Regions from separate parts of the Homo sapiens genome. Here region 2 is linked to region 1. A link means that fine-mapping ties the variant in region 1 to the expression of a gene that starts in the linked region. Tissue or cell type: testis. Region 1 holds a variant in brackets; the other region holds the start of a gene. All regions are shown on one strand. Distances are from middle to middle.

Evidence for each region. PIP is the estimated chance that this variant, and not a neighbour inherited with it, causes the effect.
Region 2: it holds the start of JUN-DT, and the variant in region 1 is fine-mapped to the expression of JUN-DT in testis (GTEx, PIP 0.95).

Annotation. Positions count from the first base shown.
Region 1 is chr1:58,811,706-58,819,967 of GRCh38, reverse strand. The region is part of intron 1 of JUN-DT (JUN divergent transcript); the gene reads right to left. LOC101926907 (a long non-coding RNA gene) reads right to left here and starts at 5,528. Exons shown (of 2, transcript XR_246327.5): 1 at 5,456-5,528; 2 at 3,926-4,700. RefSeq lists silencers at 3,445-3,594, 4,407-4,606 and enhancers at 4,048-5,043, 5,044-6,040. The variant A/T (reference allele first, on the strand shown) is at 4,759.
Region 2 is chr1:58,781,416-58,789,415 of GRCh38, reverse strand. It overlaps JUN-DT (JUN divergent transcript), which reads right to left and starts at 4,265. Exons shown (of 2, transcript NR_108106.1): 1 at 4,111-4,265. JUN (Jun proto-oncogene, AP-1 transcription factor subunit) reads left to right here and starts at 5,369. Exons shown (of 1, transcript NM_002228.4): 1 at 5,369-8,000. The coding sequence starts at 6,346. The coding sequence ends at 7,341. RefSeq lists enhancers at 4,178-4,923, 5,150-5,409, 4,924-5,671, 7,080-7,259 and silencers at 6,930-7,009, 7,397-7,572.

The sequences.
Region 1 (8,262 bases):
TAAGCAGGGTGTTTACAGAAAAGATACCACACTGGAGTCAGGCAGACCTGAGTTCAAGAGCTGACCATGTCACAAGCTAGTCAGTCAGTCCGCTCTGAGCTCAACTTCCTTGGAAGTCAATGACTAGGAGGAGGGGGGCAAAGGATCACCAGCTCTCCAGTGAGGTTGGTGGAGGCACGGAGCTGGAAACAAAAGTGCTGGAAAGACTTGTTTTGTTTCAAAACAAAATACTGAAAATGTCCCCTTGCTTTGATTTGTTTTGAATCATGATATTTTGCTTATTTTGAATTTGAAACTCATTAAAAGAGGATGTAAGGTTTTTGTGTTTATCTAGGGTGACTTGGATTATAAAAGAGGCAGAGAAACTCTGGGTGAGGCGATCTTAAAGTCCCCTCTGATCCTCACCTCCAGCTCTAAAATGACTGACATTTGGGCATACAGGGAAAAAGCAGAGAGGTGCAGCGAATCAGATACTGAACTTGAAGTCAGACCCAACTTCTTCCAACTCAGACTTTGCCACTCACTTTCTCGGCAAGTTAACAAGCGTCTTGGAGTGTCAGTTTCCTCTTCTATAATATGATCTTTTCCTCATAGCCTTATTTTGAGGTTTATTTGAAATAATGGATTTGAAAGCAACTGTCACATAGTAGGTGCTCAATAAATGTCAGCTGAGTATACTGTCTTTGTTCTCTCCATATCCCTGTCTCTAATCATAATAGTTTCCTTGTGAATACCTACCATCTGCTGAGTGTTGTCCACAGGCTATCTCTTTTACAAGCAGAAATTAATGATTTAATTCTTTGTTGTCAGTTGAGTTCATTGAATTGCCTCAAGGCGGTTCTGACCCTCAGAATAGAGACACAATGTTTGATGGGAATTTAGGGTATTCTGTCTGGAACTACACAGGTTTAAAATCTTTTGAAATTTAAAGTGGCTTTTTATTACTTTGGAAACCTATCCACTGCACGTTTTTATTTCTAACCATTATCCGTTTTCTCCCTTACTTTCCACATTTAACTCAAGGCTTCAAATACAAAAGCCAAGTTTGAAATAATCACAACATTTAAGCAATGAATGTAATGACAGCTTATATTTCCATGGCAGGAAGATGTACACTATATTTAATAGCTTTAGCCATTTACAGCAAAAATTACCACGGGGACTCCAAAGACAGAGGGTAGGAGGAGAATTCTGGGCCTTTGACTAAAGATGCCATAGTCATAAGCTGTTTTGGAAATGATTAAGTGATAAATACAGTAAATTTACCCTCAATTCTGGGAACCCCACAGTGCAGACATAATTCTACAGAAACAGAATTACTCTGCAAAGGCAGAAGTAATTATTATTATTGTTAAAAGGTCTAAACCTTAAGCCTGTGCTGTTTTATTCTCTTTAGCTGGAAGATCACTAAGTACACAGACGAGGGAACTTAGGTATGTGGAGCATCTATTAGACACCAACTTCTCTATCACTTAAAACCTAACCTCCCTCCACATTCCATGTAAGCACTTGGAACTGGACCCCCAAAAATTACAGTGAGGGAAACCAACAATCTTGAATATCTACGGTGTGCAAGCCACCTTATTATATAAAATATAGCATATGCATGCAATGCTTAATCATATATAAGGAATGCCAATAAGCTCAGAAAGGAACCCCTTGCCTTTGTTGAGGAGGCAGCTGTGTGTGGTATCATTCCTGGCTGCATGCCCATTGCCTAGCATTGTGTCTGATACATCCTGCAGGAATTAAGAATATGGAATAAGGAGCCAAACTTTGTAGATTCAAGTCCTACTTAGTAGCTGTGTGACTTTGGGTAAGTCATTTAACTTCTTCGTTCCTCAATTTCCTATTTGTGAAATGGGATGCTCTTAATACCTCTCTCATACTGTAATTGTAGAATTAAATGAGTTAATAAGGGTCAAATGCTTAAGACAGTGCTGGCAAACAGTAAGAGTTGCAAACATCATCACTTGTGGAATTGCTGGATAATGGGGACCTCACCATCACCCTGTGACATAAAGTGTAATAAACTCCTTTTTCCAGGTGGGGAAACTGAAGAAAGTACACCTGCCTGGTCATCCAGTTCTTAAGTGGCCTAAACAAGATTCCTACCTAGGCCTAACTAACACTAATAACAAAACATAGCATTTAATTAGTTTTTTTTCAAATGTTCTAGGCCTTTACAGATAGGCACATATTTACTTCTCACAACAATTATATGAGGTAAGTGTCAGTAACTCACATTTTACAGATGCAGAAACTGAGACTGAGGTTAAGTAATTTTCCCAAGGCCATATAGTCAGCAAATGTCAAGTGTGGGTTGTTTTGTTTGTTTTATATATTTTTTTCAACTTTTATTTTACTTTATTTTGAAACGGTGTCCAGCCCAGTGCCTAGGCTGGAGTGCAGTAGCAGGAACATGGCTCACTGCAGCCTCGACTTCCTAGGCTCAAGCAATCCTTCTGTCTCAGCCTCCTATGTAGCTGGGACCACAGGTGCACGCCACCATGCCTAGCTAATTTTTAAATTTTTTGTAGAGATGAGGTCTCACTTTGTTGCCCAGGTGGGTCTCAAACTCCTGGCCTCAAGCCATCCTCCCCCTTCTGTCTCCCAAAGTGCTGGAATTAAAAGAGTGAGCCACTGCACCCGTCCCAACTTTTATTTTATAATTGGGGGTACATGTGCAGGTTTGTTACAAAGGTATATTGCCTAATGCTGAGGTTTTTAGTATAATTGAGCTTGTCACTCAGATAGTGAGCATAGCACCCAAGAGGTAATTTTCCAGCCCTTGCTCTGCTCCCTCTCCCACTAACTCTAGTAGTCCTCAGTGTCTATCATGTCCACCTTTATGTCCATGTGTACCCATTGTTTAGCTCCTGCTTATAAGTGAGGATATGTGGTATTTGATTTTCTTTTCCTGATTAGTTCACTTAGGATAATGGCCTCCACCTGCATCCATGTTGCTGCAAAGGACACGATTTCATTCTTTTTATGACTGCATAGTGTTCCGTGGTGTGTATGAGCCATATTTTCTTTATCCAATCCACCATTGACAAGCACCTGGGTTGATTCCAAGTTTTTGCTATTGTGAATAGCACTTCGATGAACATAGGGATTCATGTGTCTTTCTGGAAGAACCACTTATTTTTCTTTCGGTACAGACCCAGTAATGGGATTGCTGAGTGGAAGGTAGTTCAACTCTGGGTACTTTTAGAAAACCCAGGCCAGAGAACCTGACTGTCCCCTACATGGAAGAAAAGGGCCAGGTCTCTGGAACCTGAAATTCAGCTAGCTGAGCTGCAGATCTGGCTGGCGTTCCTATGGCCAGAACTTGGACCTGAGGACTGTACGAGGACTGAGGATTGAGGCTGGGTCTCTGGGGCCGCCTGGGGCTCTGGGGCCGCCGGTGGGTTAGCGGGCCTGGAACACGGGTGTGGCCCGCAGCGCCAGTTTACAACGGCCGGCAGGACCGCAGGGAGGAGCAAAAGCAGGAAGTGCCGCGCGCGCTCGCACCGAGGGAACCCCGGCGGCGCCCCGCCTTTGCCGGCGTCTGGGCTCTGTGCCCGCCGCCCTCCCCGGCCGTTCGCCCGCGAGTCCCTTTCGCTTTTAACCCCAGCCGCGCTGATTGCCTGCGATTACTCAGAATCGCCCCCACTTGGCTGGCTGAGCGACAAAAATCAGCAGTAGCTGTCCGAGGAAAGCTCTTCGCAAACCGGCGCCCCCACCCAGCGGAAACACCCCAAGCCGGATCCCAGAAATCTCAGTCTTCTCCCAACCCCGGCTCTGCCTCTCTCTCTCAATGGGACTCGTCCGGGTCTCAGTTTGCCCATCTGTGCAGACGGTGTGAAGAATTTCTGCACAATCGAGAAAAAAAGGTGTGGAAACAGCCGAAAATAATTTTGATCCGAAATAACTTTGAGAGTTTTATAGTCTAATCGATTATTGTTTTAATAAGAATCTGTATTTTTTCATGCAAAAAGGAGTTTAACTGTCACCCAGGAAAATTCGCCTGTGGTTGGAGTTGCCCTGTGCGACACGCCCAGGGAAGCGCTGGAATGTCCCTTTCCGCTCCCATCTGTCTGTTAACCTGTAACCCGTTGTGCATGTATTTGATTCTTCCCGGTTAGAAGTTTTACAATCTCGGTGACGATAGGTGGGTTGGGGAGAGACTGGGTTTTGCAGCCAGATATTGGGTTACAATATCTTGCTGTACCATTTTTTTGCCTGTGGGACCTTGGTCAAGCCATTTCAACGTGCCGAGCCTCAGCCTCCCTTCTATAAAATGGGAAGAAGGAATCTCCTGCAGGGTTTCTGGGAAGATTCGGGCTGCTGTCTCTCTAGGGCCTACCATGTTCTGAGTGATCAGTGGAGAAGGGTGCTCATGGGTGGGGACTCCGACGGTCTGAGCCTGGATTTCTTCCACCTGCTCCTCCTTTTGGCCCCGTGGCTCCCCGGCCCTGCGAGAGGGCTGGGGCGTGGCGGGCTCCGAGCCTCCCGAGGCCTGCGTAGCGGCCGTAGCACCAGTTCCCGCCTCCCCCGCGGCCCGGCGCTGCGGGCGGGACCTGCGGCGACCTGTGGGCGGAAGTCTGTGGCTTTATTTACACAGAGGGCAGCCCGTGGAGGCTAGCCTTGTAAGGACGAATCGCTGGCGGGCCTGTGGGGGAGGCCAGGAAAGGCGGCCTTCGCCTGATAGGAATCTGTGAATAAATAAATACGTGAATGGAAGAATGCATTGAAATTCCCTCCTAGGATCAC[A/T]GAAACGCATTCCAAAGGCAGCCTCAGAATCCGCCCACTCGCCCCCATCCCATTTGAGGATCAAATGATTCAAATGAGTTATTGCCAGGCCAGGCCTCCTGCCTCCCAGACCCCGCCGTCCTGGGGCTGCCTTTGGGGCGCGACTTCAGGGCTAGGAGTGAGATCTTGGGGCTAAACAAAGGGAAAGGGAACCCCGCTTTGCTCAGCACCTGCCATGTGCTAGGCACCTTTCCTATGTCACTTCATTGACTTTCATTCCCACGACGCTTTGGGGTAGGCACCGTCTTCCCACTTTCGTCTGGGAAAACTCTGGGTCAGATAGAAGTCACTCGCCCAAGAACAAAAGCGTGTGGGTGGAACAGCTTGGATTCAAATACAAGTCTGTCCTGAGCGCCTTTCACGCCACCGCGGGGCCCGGAGGAGGCGCAGGGGCCAGGAAGAGAAAGCGCGCTGGCGAGGACAGGGGAGCGGCGCGACTGCCCAGCTGCGTTTCCGGGTACCACCCCTTCCCGCGGTGTCCTTCGCTTGCCCGCTGGATCGCCAAAGCCTCTTCCAGCTCCACCCGTCAACTCATTCGCCGCCGCCCGGCCCGCTCACTCTCCTGATTTAGCAGCCAGAAGCCCCACGCCCGGTGACCACCGACCCAGAGCCCCTGGTCATGTCATAGCCAAAACCAATGTAGTCCTGGAGGACTTACAGGTGCACCCAGGGTGCGTATTTCTCCTGCCTCCACCTGAGTCCCGGCTCCGCATCCGGTCCTGGAGCAAAGGAAACTAACTGGTCTAGGCGCCTCTTTTCCCGGCAGGGCCCCACCCACGCCCACCCTGCCGAGGCCCCAAACAGGTTTCTTCACTTTCCCTGGCCCAGCTCCTGACCCGGGGCAGGAAGGAAGCCGGTTGCTCAATGTGCTGGAGGCTAGTTTTGGTTCTCAGGCCACCTATTGACCAGCCAATCAGTCAGGTGGGCCCAGCTCAAGCCACCCTGCAGGTACAGTGACTTGAGCACCTAGGACCACTCAACAAATCCTTAGGGGTCCTCACGCAACACAACACGTGGGCTCTATGTGCAGCCTGTGAGCGCCAGATCCCTTGGGAAAAATGAGCTGGATGAAGCCGGCCACCCCAGCCCTCTGGGTCCATCCTGCAGGCTTGCCCCAGGGCAACACACTGACCTCTTGCTGGGCCTCCATCACACATGCATCCACTGACCTTGGAAGACTTTCCAGAAGCCCCAGCTCGTTTGCTTTTAGATCTCTTGGCCAAGAGGACAGCATGGGCAGAAAATTCAGACAATGACAGGAGGAATTTATTCACAAACATTTACTGAGTGCCAGCCATTGTACTAGACCCTGGGGATACCAACGCAAACCAAACAGTCCCTTCCCCCACGTGTCCCCATCTAATGAGGAGTCAGGTAACAGGTCATTTTAAGAGGATGCCATGAGCCATTTCCCAGAGTGCATCTGGAAGAAGACCCTGAGTTGGTGGGGTGAGGAGTAGGGAGGCATCTGGAAAGACTCTCAGACTTCAAACACTGCCCCTTTCCTTCCTTCTTCCATCTTTCTACACTCATTTCTGGAGTACTGCATCAAGCTAAGAGCTCAGGGAGCAGGAGGTGGTTTTCAAAGGAGAACAAGTCATGGTGTCACAGTGTTGTGGTTAAAATGCCAGCGCTCCAGCTACAGCCACTTATTCTGTGCCTGTGGGTGATTCACATAATCTCTCTGACCCTTGGTTTTGCTATCTGTATAATAGGGATAATTGATAATATCTACTTCACAGAACAAGGCCCAGCCCAGGGTAGCCATTAATTAATGTAGTCTTATATTATTTTGTGGTGGTTCACACTTTTCTGTTTCTTACAACAACCCCATGTGGCTGACAGCACAGGTAACCTTATACCCATTTTACAGATGAGGAAGCCGACCCAGACAAATTAACGCAATGGTCCATGTCTGGTACATTTCAAGATCAGGATCCTGGGGAGGGGTGGCCTCCTGAAATAGGGGGATATTATGACCTTCACCTGCCCTCCCTGAAACCCCAGATGACTGGTTGAGGCTGAACTGTCTGGGGAACTTCCTCTGACCTAAATCCTGTCGGCTATACCCAAACACCAGCCAGAAGATACAAACAGCCACACCCTCACCGTTTTTGCCCCAACTTGTGCTTCATGCCAGGGGATTTCTCTTTCAGGAACTACATTTAAAAAGGGGGGAATTATATGATAATTGGACACCTACTATGTGGCAGACATTACACAAGGCATGCTTGTGTGGGTTATTTTATCTCATGTGAGCCATGTTATGTGGACAGGGAAAAGAGGAGGATGATGGAGGAGGAGGAAAGAATCGACTTGTTCCAACTGCTCTCCATAATAAAACTTCATTCAAGTGCATATAACCCTGAGTGTTCTTTCTAACATGCAAATGTGATCATACTCCAACTCTCTTGCTTAAAATTTCCCAGTAGCCTCCCTCTGTGTTCACAACAAAGTTGACACTGCACAGACATGCTCAGCTAGCCACATCGTCATATCCACTGTGCGCTCTGACCTCCTGGCCTTTGCACATGCAGTTTCTTCTTCCTGGAATGCCCTTTCCAGCTCCCCACTTCCTTTCTTACTTTTACTTGGTTAAATCCTATTCATCCTTCAGCCCTCAGCTTTAAATGTTGCTTCCTCTAGGAAGCCTCCTTGTCCACTCAGACAGGAATAGGCCCCTGCTACATACCATGCTCTATACATACTATTCTGTGTTGTATCTGTTTAATAGTGTCCCACTAGGTAATGAGCTCCTTAGGGTCAGGAACTATGTCCTCTTCCTGTGTCCTCAGCACTAAGCATATTATGACTCCTAATAGGCATTCAATAAATGTTTAATAGATGGATGAGAAGAGGTTGAGCATAAAAATTATCCCCATTTAACAGAAGAGAAAACCAATCCCAAAGAGGGGGGAAAATGCCTGTCTAAGCTGGTTAATGAATGAGTTACGCCTCTGTAAATCCGCTCAGCATTGTTTCACTATTTCATTTATAATGAAGATCATGCAAACTTGTAAGTTCTGATCTAAATTGTTCTTATCACTATCTTTCAACATTGCACAGAAATAGGACCTGGGTCCTAATAATGTAATAATTATAAATACTGATTATCAGGTCTATAGTTAGTCCTGGGTCCTGATTTTAGGTGTCCAAGACACATTATACCTCATGACATCTTTCAGATGCCACCACTGTGATGTCTCTTCAACAGATGAGAAAGCTGATTCAGAGAGATTAAGTGATTTACCCAAGGATCCACAGCCTTCAAACCCAAGTACTCTCCAACTCCTAAGCCCAGGTTCTTTCCACCTCCCCATCCAGCCTCCTGACATGGCTTGGAGCCAACTCTTTTGTGACCTCACATCCCATCTAGGCCTCAGTTACCCCTCTGACAGGATACAGATGAGACCCCACAATCTCTATGGGTCCTCTGGGCTTAGCCCAAATGTCATACAAACACTG
Region 2 (8,000 bases), 30 kb after region 1:
GCTTTAAGGGCTATGCTTTTTTCTGTCTGCCAATAACAGTAATGTTTTAGAAAGAGCGTGCTTCATTAACCAAGGTCTTTGAGCAAAGATCATGTGTGTAAATCAGAGACACAGCCAACTTATGGTGGATGTATTAGTCTGTTCTCACACTGCTAATAAAGACATACCTGAGATTGGGAAATTTATAAAGGAAAGAGGTTTAATGGACTCACAGTTCCACATGGCTTGGGAGGCCTCAAAATCATGGCAGAAGGCAAAGGAGAAGCAAAAGCACATCTTACATGGTGGCAAGCAAGAAAGCTTGTGCAGGGCAACTCCCATTTATAAAACCATAATATCTTATGAGACTAATTCATTACCATGAGAACAGTATGGGGGAAACTGACCCCATGATTCAATTATCTCCACCTGACCCCACCTTTGACATGTGAGGATTATTACAATTCAAGGTGAGATTTGAGTGGGGACACAACCAAACCATATGAGTGGACATGCAATATGAGTGAGAAACAATTCTGTGATTGTAACCCAGTAAGATTTTTGGATGGCTAACACAGCATAACCTAGAGTATATGGAGGTGTGCATTTCCAGCTCTTTGACTTCCGGGTACCTAGTAGGATTGCACTTTCCTGCACCCTTTAAGTAAGGCATGGCCATGTGACTAATTTTAGCCAATAATATGTAAATACAATAAAAAGTGTCATTCCTAGGAGGGAGCTTTTAAAGCCAATGTGAGTTCACCATGCTTTCTTTCCCCTGCCAAACTGATGCGATGATTGTTGAAGCATGTATCAAGATGAAACCTTCTTCAGACTAGGTTTCTAAATGAGCACATTAAGCAGAGCCCCGTGAAGTTGAACATGTAGTATGAGCAAAATATAAAATTTATTTTTAAGCCACTGAAATTTTAGGATTGTTTGTTATGGCAGCATAACCTAAACCATCCTGACTCATATAAAAATTGGCTCCTAGATATGGGTTAGTGTAATAACAACAATAAGCATAACAACAATAAAACTAAACAATCATTTAGAGGGCGATAACTAAGAACACTGCTATCAGAAGCTGAAGGGATGGTGATCTGTTTGGTAAACATATCACCTGTGATAATGTAGAAGGCAGATCATGAACCTGATGAACTAAAGAAAAGGATTGTAAAACAGAGAGTGAGTAGTGTGTGTTGGTGGCTGTTGGATGCATTCTGAAAGTTACTACAAGCTATTCAAAGATGAACTCAGAAAAATTTGGCCTGTTTGCAATCAGGAATGAAATGGAATAGAGAAAACCTATAAATCCAGGGATTTACATCGTTAGAAGAGGCAATTGTTTCCCAGTCCCGACTGGTAAAATATAAAATCAAGAAATACTTTTAGCAAGAAAGGACCTGGAAGAAACTAAGCTTTGAAGTAAGGATCAAGTCACAAAGTATGAACCTACTATTAAAACCTCAGGATAGGAGGCCGAGGAGGACGGATCACCTGAGGTCGGGAGTTCGAGACAAGCCTGACCAATATGGAGAAATCCTGTCGCTCCTAAAAATACAAAATTAGCCGGGCGTGGTGGCGCATGCCTGTAATCCCAGCTACTCAGGAGGCTGAGGCAGGAGAATCGCTTGAACCCGGGAGGTAGAGGTTGCAGTGAGCCGAGACTGTGCCATTGCACTCCAACCAGGGCAACAAGAGTGAAACTCCGTCTCAGAAAAAAAAAAAAAAGGATCAATTAAGATCTTACCCAGTATATACTTTCAACTGGACAAAATGGCTCTGGGAAAAGGAAGAAAGGTCTAACTCTCCCATCAAAACCCAATAAGCCCAAAGTGCTCAAAATCAAGTGAAGAGCAAGAGAGTGAGACGGCAAAAGAGAGACAGAGGAGTCAACAGGCAGGAGAGCAGGAAAGCAAAGAGATATGGCAAACCAAAGAAGTATGTCTGGAAAAGAACTTTGTGGCTATTGTCACATGGAACACCTCATATCAGATAGATAAGAAGCCTACCTACACATATTCAAGACTTAATGTCACTCTGCATCTCCCCAACTTTTAAAAGCTTATTTAAAAGCATATTTTCCAATGCCTGCTTTAGCTGTGGAAAAGGAAGACTCTCCGAGGGCAAATCCAGGAGTCATGGAAAACAATGGGCAGGGCAGCTTGGTGCTGTGACTGGATGGGTCTTTAAGGTTGTTTCCCTTGAATAAAGAATGAGGGAATTCCACCAGGGGAAGGAGAGTAGACCAAACATTTGGTGAACAGAAAGGGAGACAGAGTCTTTAGTGTTATTCCCCAAATATTCCTGGAGAGCCCTTTGAGACACCTGGTAGGATTATAGTGATCTAAAGAGGCATGGCCATGTGACTGCTTTGGCCAATGATGTATGGGCAGAAGTGATGTGTGCCATAAGTGGATGCTCTGACAGCCATGATGTTCCGAGTTCCTTCCCCACAGTCAGGATAGCTGTGAAAAGGGGTATCAACACGAGGCCTCCTTCAGCCTGAGCCCTTTAGTGACTACAATGAGCAGAGCTACCCTGCCAACCTACAACGGTCATGTAGCAGAAATGACCAACTTTCACTGGAATAAGCCACTGATATGTTAGGGTTGTTTGTTAGGGCAGCATAACACTGCCTTTCCTGACAGAACTGGGAGTGAGAGATAAGGCTGGAGAGAGAAGGAGTTGGATTGTGAAAAGCCCCTTCTCCAAGGCATAGGAATCGGAACTCTCCTGATTGTAAGGAAAAGCCAATGAAGGCTTCCAAGCAGGGGCGTTAACATGAACAGATTTGTTATTTTTTTGGATGAAATATGCTATTTCTCAACATAAGGAGAAGATCAGCCTACTAAACCACATGAGGCAGAGAGGAACACACAGAACCTTAGGCAAAAGATATATATTTATGCAAAGTCCTAAGTCTTGAAATTTCTAAATACAAGAGCTCTGAACGGAGTTACAGTCAGAGGATCAGGCAAGAAAATTTCTTCTATGCCACAAGCGCTATTTCCTCTGCAGATAACTAATACTCCACAAGAAAGTTTGCCAGAGTAGAGAAAATACAAAGGAATGTAACACAGACCTGAGGTCAATTTCCAGCTGCCTGTGTGACCTCAACAAAGATACTTAACCTCTCTGGGCCTATTTCCTCACATGTTAAATCTGGATAATAATATATGTCTCTCAAGACAGTTGTGGGGAGAAAACAGCGTATTTAAATTGCTTAGGAGAATGCCTGGCAGATAATAAGTGTTTAATACATGAAACTGATTTTTATTACTGTTATTAAAAAATATTTAGAACACCAACTCCCTGAATACAACAGAAAATGATTCAGGGCAACAGACAGAGGAGAATGTTCTCTCCTTGAGGAAGCAACTGGATCTTGTCATCACTGTATACCTACCTACCCCACCCCCTCCCCAGCTCAGTGCCTGGCTCACAGTAGGCTTTCAGTTACCCTCTGCAGATCAGTGAAAGCTAGGTGAGTGCCCGGAGTGAAGAAAAGTTGGCAGGTTTCCCACTGATACCAGCTGCTGTTGGTTTCTGAACACTCAAAGCCGCAAATACCTTAGGGCTGGGGGCAATGAACCCAAGGCTGAATTCCAAGTTCAGAAGCAGCGAAGTCTGAATTTAGAACCTAGGAACTTAAACTGCTGCAGGTCCAACTTCAAGCCCCAGTTTTAGACAGAGGCTTGGGAAAGATCTGACTTCTAACCCGGTTCCCCCTCCCCTCCTCCCCTCGATGCTTCTCACAGGAAAGTACACCTGGTCCTGCCAAATCGCACTCTTATATCCTGGCATCCTATCCAGGCTCTGCGAGGATGGAAACTGCGAGGCAGGGGAGGGAAGCGGGCTGTTTGGCCACCACCTCCCTAGTGCTGCAGGCGACCCTGTCACACTAACTCCTGGCAGCCCAGTGAGGTGGACGGCACCGGCCCCACCTGCAGATGAGGGAAATGAAGCTCGGAGGAGTTCCGTGATTTGCTTGCTTCACACTGTGGTAGCCTGGCCACGAAAGAACCAGGATTCCCGACTTCGGGATTCTTTCCACCACACACTTTCGTCCCTAAGGGGTGGGGGGCGGGGGGAGAATAAAATAACCGCGGAAAAGGAACCACTTACATGTGTCTAGCGCTTCCTAGAGGCTACCCAGGATATGCGCCCACCACCCGGCCGGGAGTGCAGAGATTTGAAGTCCAGGTTCTACCCCGGGCTCCGAGTACTACTGCGTGACTTTATGCGAGTGTCCGCCGCCTTCTGGGCTTGTTTTCCCGGAAGCAACTCGGCGCGGATGGAGTGTGTGTGTGCGCGCGCGCGCGCGTTATGTTGTGCGTGTTGTGTTAAGCGTGTGCGTGTTGTCCGGGGGCGGGAGGGGGAGTAGACTAACACCGGGGTTCCCCGAGTTTCGGATCGCCTACACGCTTGTTCCCATCTGGACCCTGTTACCCACCAATTGCGCCCACTATAAAAACTGCCCCTCCGAGGCAAAGCTGTGAACCCCCGCGCCCTTTCCCCCACGGTCCCGGAGGATGAAGTGGGGTGCAACGGAGACTCAGCTGAGCGTCCAGTTTCGGGCAATACAAATCTCTCGGCTTCTACGAGCAGCCAGACGACCCCGCGGACCGTCGCTCCTGAACTTGACCGAGATGCAAACTTCGGAGTGTTCTCAACGTGGGGGGCCGACTCTCGGGAGACCGCCCCTAAACTTAAGTCCCCTTAGGCTCGCCCCCACCTGGGACTTCACAGAGCCACCTTAAGGGCGGTATTCCCGCCCCCCCGGAAGTGCGGGGGGGTGGCAGCGTACTTGGATTCTCAGCCTCCAGCCCCGCGCGGTGGCGGCCGCCGGTGGATGACTTCGGGCCCCACAAGTGGGGAAACAACAACCACCCCTCGCCCGCACCCCTGGCCCAAAACAACTGGCCAGGTTCCCTGGCCTCCCGGGTCCCTGCATCCCCCGCATCCCCGTCCGCAGCCGTGAACTTGAGCCCCCCTCCATCAGAGGTTGCGAGCGTCCGCCCGCTCGCGGCAGCCACCGTCACTAGACAGTCAAACCCCAAGACGTCAGCCCACAATGCACCGGGCGGGCCGGGAAAAACGGCCCGGGGAGGGGACCGGGGAAGAGAGGGCCGAGAGGCGTGCGGCAGGGGGGAGGGTAGGAGAAAGAAGGGCCCGACTGTAGGAGGGCAGCGGAGCATTACCTCATCCCGTGAGCCTCCGCGGGCCCAGAGAAGAATCTTCTAGGGTGGAGTCTCCATGGTGACGGGCGGGCCCGCCCCCCTGAGAGCGACGCGAGCCAATGGGAAGGCCTTGGGGTGACATCATGGGCTATTTTTAGGGGTTGACTGGTAGCAGATAAGTGTTGAGCTCGGGCTGGATAAGGGCTCAGAGTTGCACTGAGTGTGGCTGAAGCAGCGAGGCGGGAGTGGAGGTGCGCGGAGTCAGGCAGACAGACAGACACAGCCAGCCAGCCAGGTCGGCAGTATAGTCCGAACTGCAAATCTTATTTTCTTTTCACCTTCTCTCTAACTGCCCAGAGCTAGCGCCTGTGGCTCCCGGGCTGGTGTTTCGGGAGTGTCCAGAGAGCCTGGTCTCCAGCCGCCCCCGGGAGGAGAGCCCTGCTGCCCAGGCGCTGTTGACAGCGGCGGAAAGCAGCGGTACCCACGCGCCCGCCGGGGGAAGTCGGCGAGCGGCTGCAGCAGCAAAGAACTTTCCCGGCTGGGAGGACCGGAGACAAGTGGCAGAGTCCCGGAGCCAACTTTTGCAAGCCTTTCCTGCGTCTTAGGCTTCTCCACGGCGGTAAAGACCAGAAGGCGGCGGAGAGCCACGCAAGAGAAGAAGGACGTGCGCTCAGCTTCGCTCGCACCGGTTGTTGAACTTGGGCGAGCGCGAGCCGCGGCTGCCGGGCGCCCCCTCCCCCTAGCAGCGGAGGAGGGGACAAGTCGTCGGAGTCCGGGCGGCCAAGACCCGCCGCCGGCCGGCCACTGCAGGGTCCGCACTGATCCGCTCCGCGGGGAGAGCCGCTGCTCTGGGAAGTGAGTTCGCCTGCGGACTCCGAGGAACCGCTGCGCACGAAGAGCGCTCAGTGAGTGACCGCGACTTTTCAAAGCCGGGTAGCGCGCGCGAGTCGACAAGTAAGAGTGCGGGAGGCATCTTAATTAACCCTGCGCTCCCTGGAGCGAGCTGGTGAGGAGGGCGCAGCGGGGACGACAGCCAGCGGGTGCGTGCGCTCTTAGAGAAACTTTCCCTGTCAAAGGCTCCGGGGGGCGCGGGTGTCCCCCGCTTGCCACAGCCCTGTTGCGGCCCCGAAACTTGTGCGCGCAGCCCAAACTAACCTCACGTGAAGTGACGGACTGTTCTATGACTGCAAAGATGGAAACGACCTTCTATGACGATGCCCTCAACGCCTCGTTCCTCCCGTCCGAGAGCGGACCTTATGGCTACAGTAACCCCAAGATCCTGAAACAGAGCATGACCCTGAACCTGGCCGACCCAGTGGGGAGCCTGAAGCCGCACCTCCGCGCCAAGAACTCGGACCTCCTCACCTCGCCCGACGTGGGGCTGCTCAAGCTGGCGTCGCCCGAGCTGGAGCGCCTGATAATCCAGTCCAGCAACGGGCACATCACCACCACGCCGACCCCCACCCAGTTCCTGTGCCCCAAGAACGTGACAGATGAGCAGGAGGGCTTCGCCGAGGGCTTCGTGCGCGCCCTGGCCGAACTGCACAGCCAGAACACGCTGCCCAGCGTCACGTCGGCGGCGCAGCCGGTCAACGGGGCAGGCATGGTGGCTCCCGCGGTAGCCTCGGTGGCAGGGGGCAGCGGCAGCGGCGGCTTCAGCGCCAGCCTGCACAGCGAGCCGCCGGTCTACGCAAACCTCAGCAACTTCAACCCAGGCGCGCTGAGCAGCGGCGGCGGGGCGCCCTCCTACGGCGCGGCCGGCCTGGCCTTTCCCGCGCAACCCCAGCAGCAGCAGCAGCCGCCGCACCACCTGCCCCAGCAGATGCCCGTGCAGCACCCGCGGCTGCAGGCCCTGAAGGAGGAGCCTCAGACAGTGCCCGAGATGCCCGGCGAGACACCGCCCCTGTCCCCCATCGACATGGAGTCCCAGGAGCGGATCAAGGCGGAGAGGAAGCGCATGAGGAACCGCATCGCTGCCTCCAAGTGCCGAAAAAGGAAGCTGGAGAGAATCGCCCGGCTGGAGGAAAAAGTGAAAACCTTGAAAGCTCAGAACTCGGAGCTGGCGTCCACGGCCAACATGCTCAGGGAACAGGTGGCACAGCTTAAACAGAAAGTCATGAACCACGTTAACAGTGGGTGCCAACTCATGCTAACGCAGCAGTTGCAAACATTTTGAAGAGAGACCGTCGGGGGCTGAGGGGCAACGAAGAAAAAAAATAACACAGAGAGACAGACTTGAGAACTTGACAAGTTGCGACGGAGAGAAAAAAGAAGTGTCCGAGAACTAAAGCCAAGGGTATCCAAGTTGGACTGGGTTGCGTCCTGACGGCGCCCCCAGTGTGCACGAGTGGGAAGGACTTGGCGCGCCCTCCCTTGGCGTGGAGCCAGGGAGCGGCCGCCTGCGGGCTGCCCCGCTTTGCGGACGGGCTGTCCCCGCGCGAACGGAACGTTGGACTTTTCGTTAACATTGACCAAGAACTGCATGGACCTAACATTCGATCTCATTCAGTATTAAAGGGGGGAGGGGGAGGGGGTTACAAACTGCAATAGAGACTGTAGATTGCTTCTGTAGTACTCCTTAAGAACACAAAGCGGGGGGAGGGTTGGGGAGGGGCGGCAGGAGGGAGGTTTGTGAGAGCGAGGCTGAGCCTACAGATGAACTCTTTCTGGCCTGCCTTCGTTAACTGTGTATGTACATATATATATTTTTTAATTTGATGAAAGCTGATTACTGTCAATAAACAGCTTCATGCCTTTGTAAGTTATTTCTTGTTTGTTTGTTTGGGTATCCTGCCCAGTGTTGTTTGTAAATAAGAGATTTGGAGCACTCTGAGT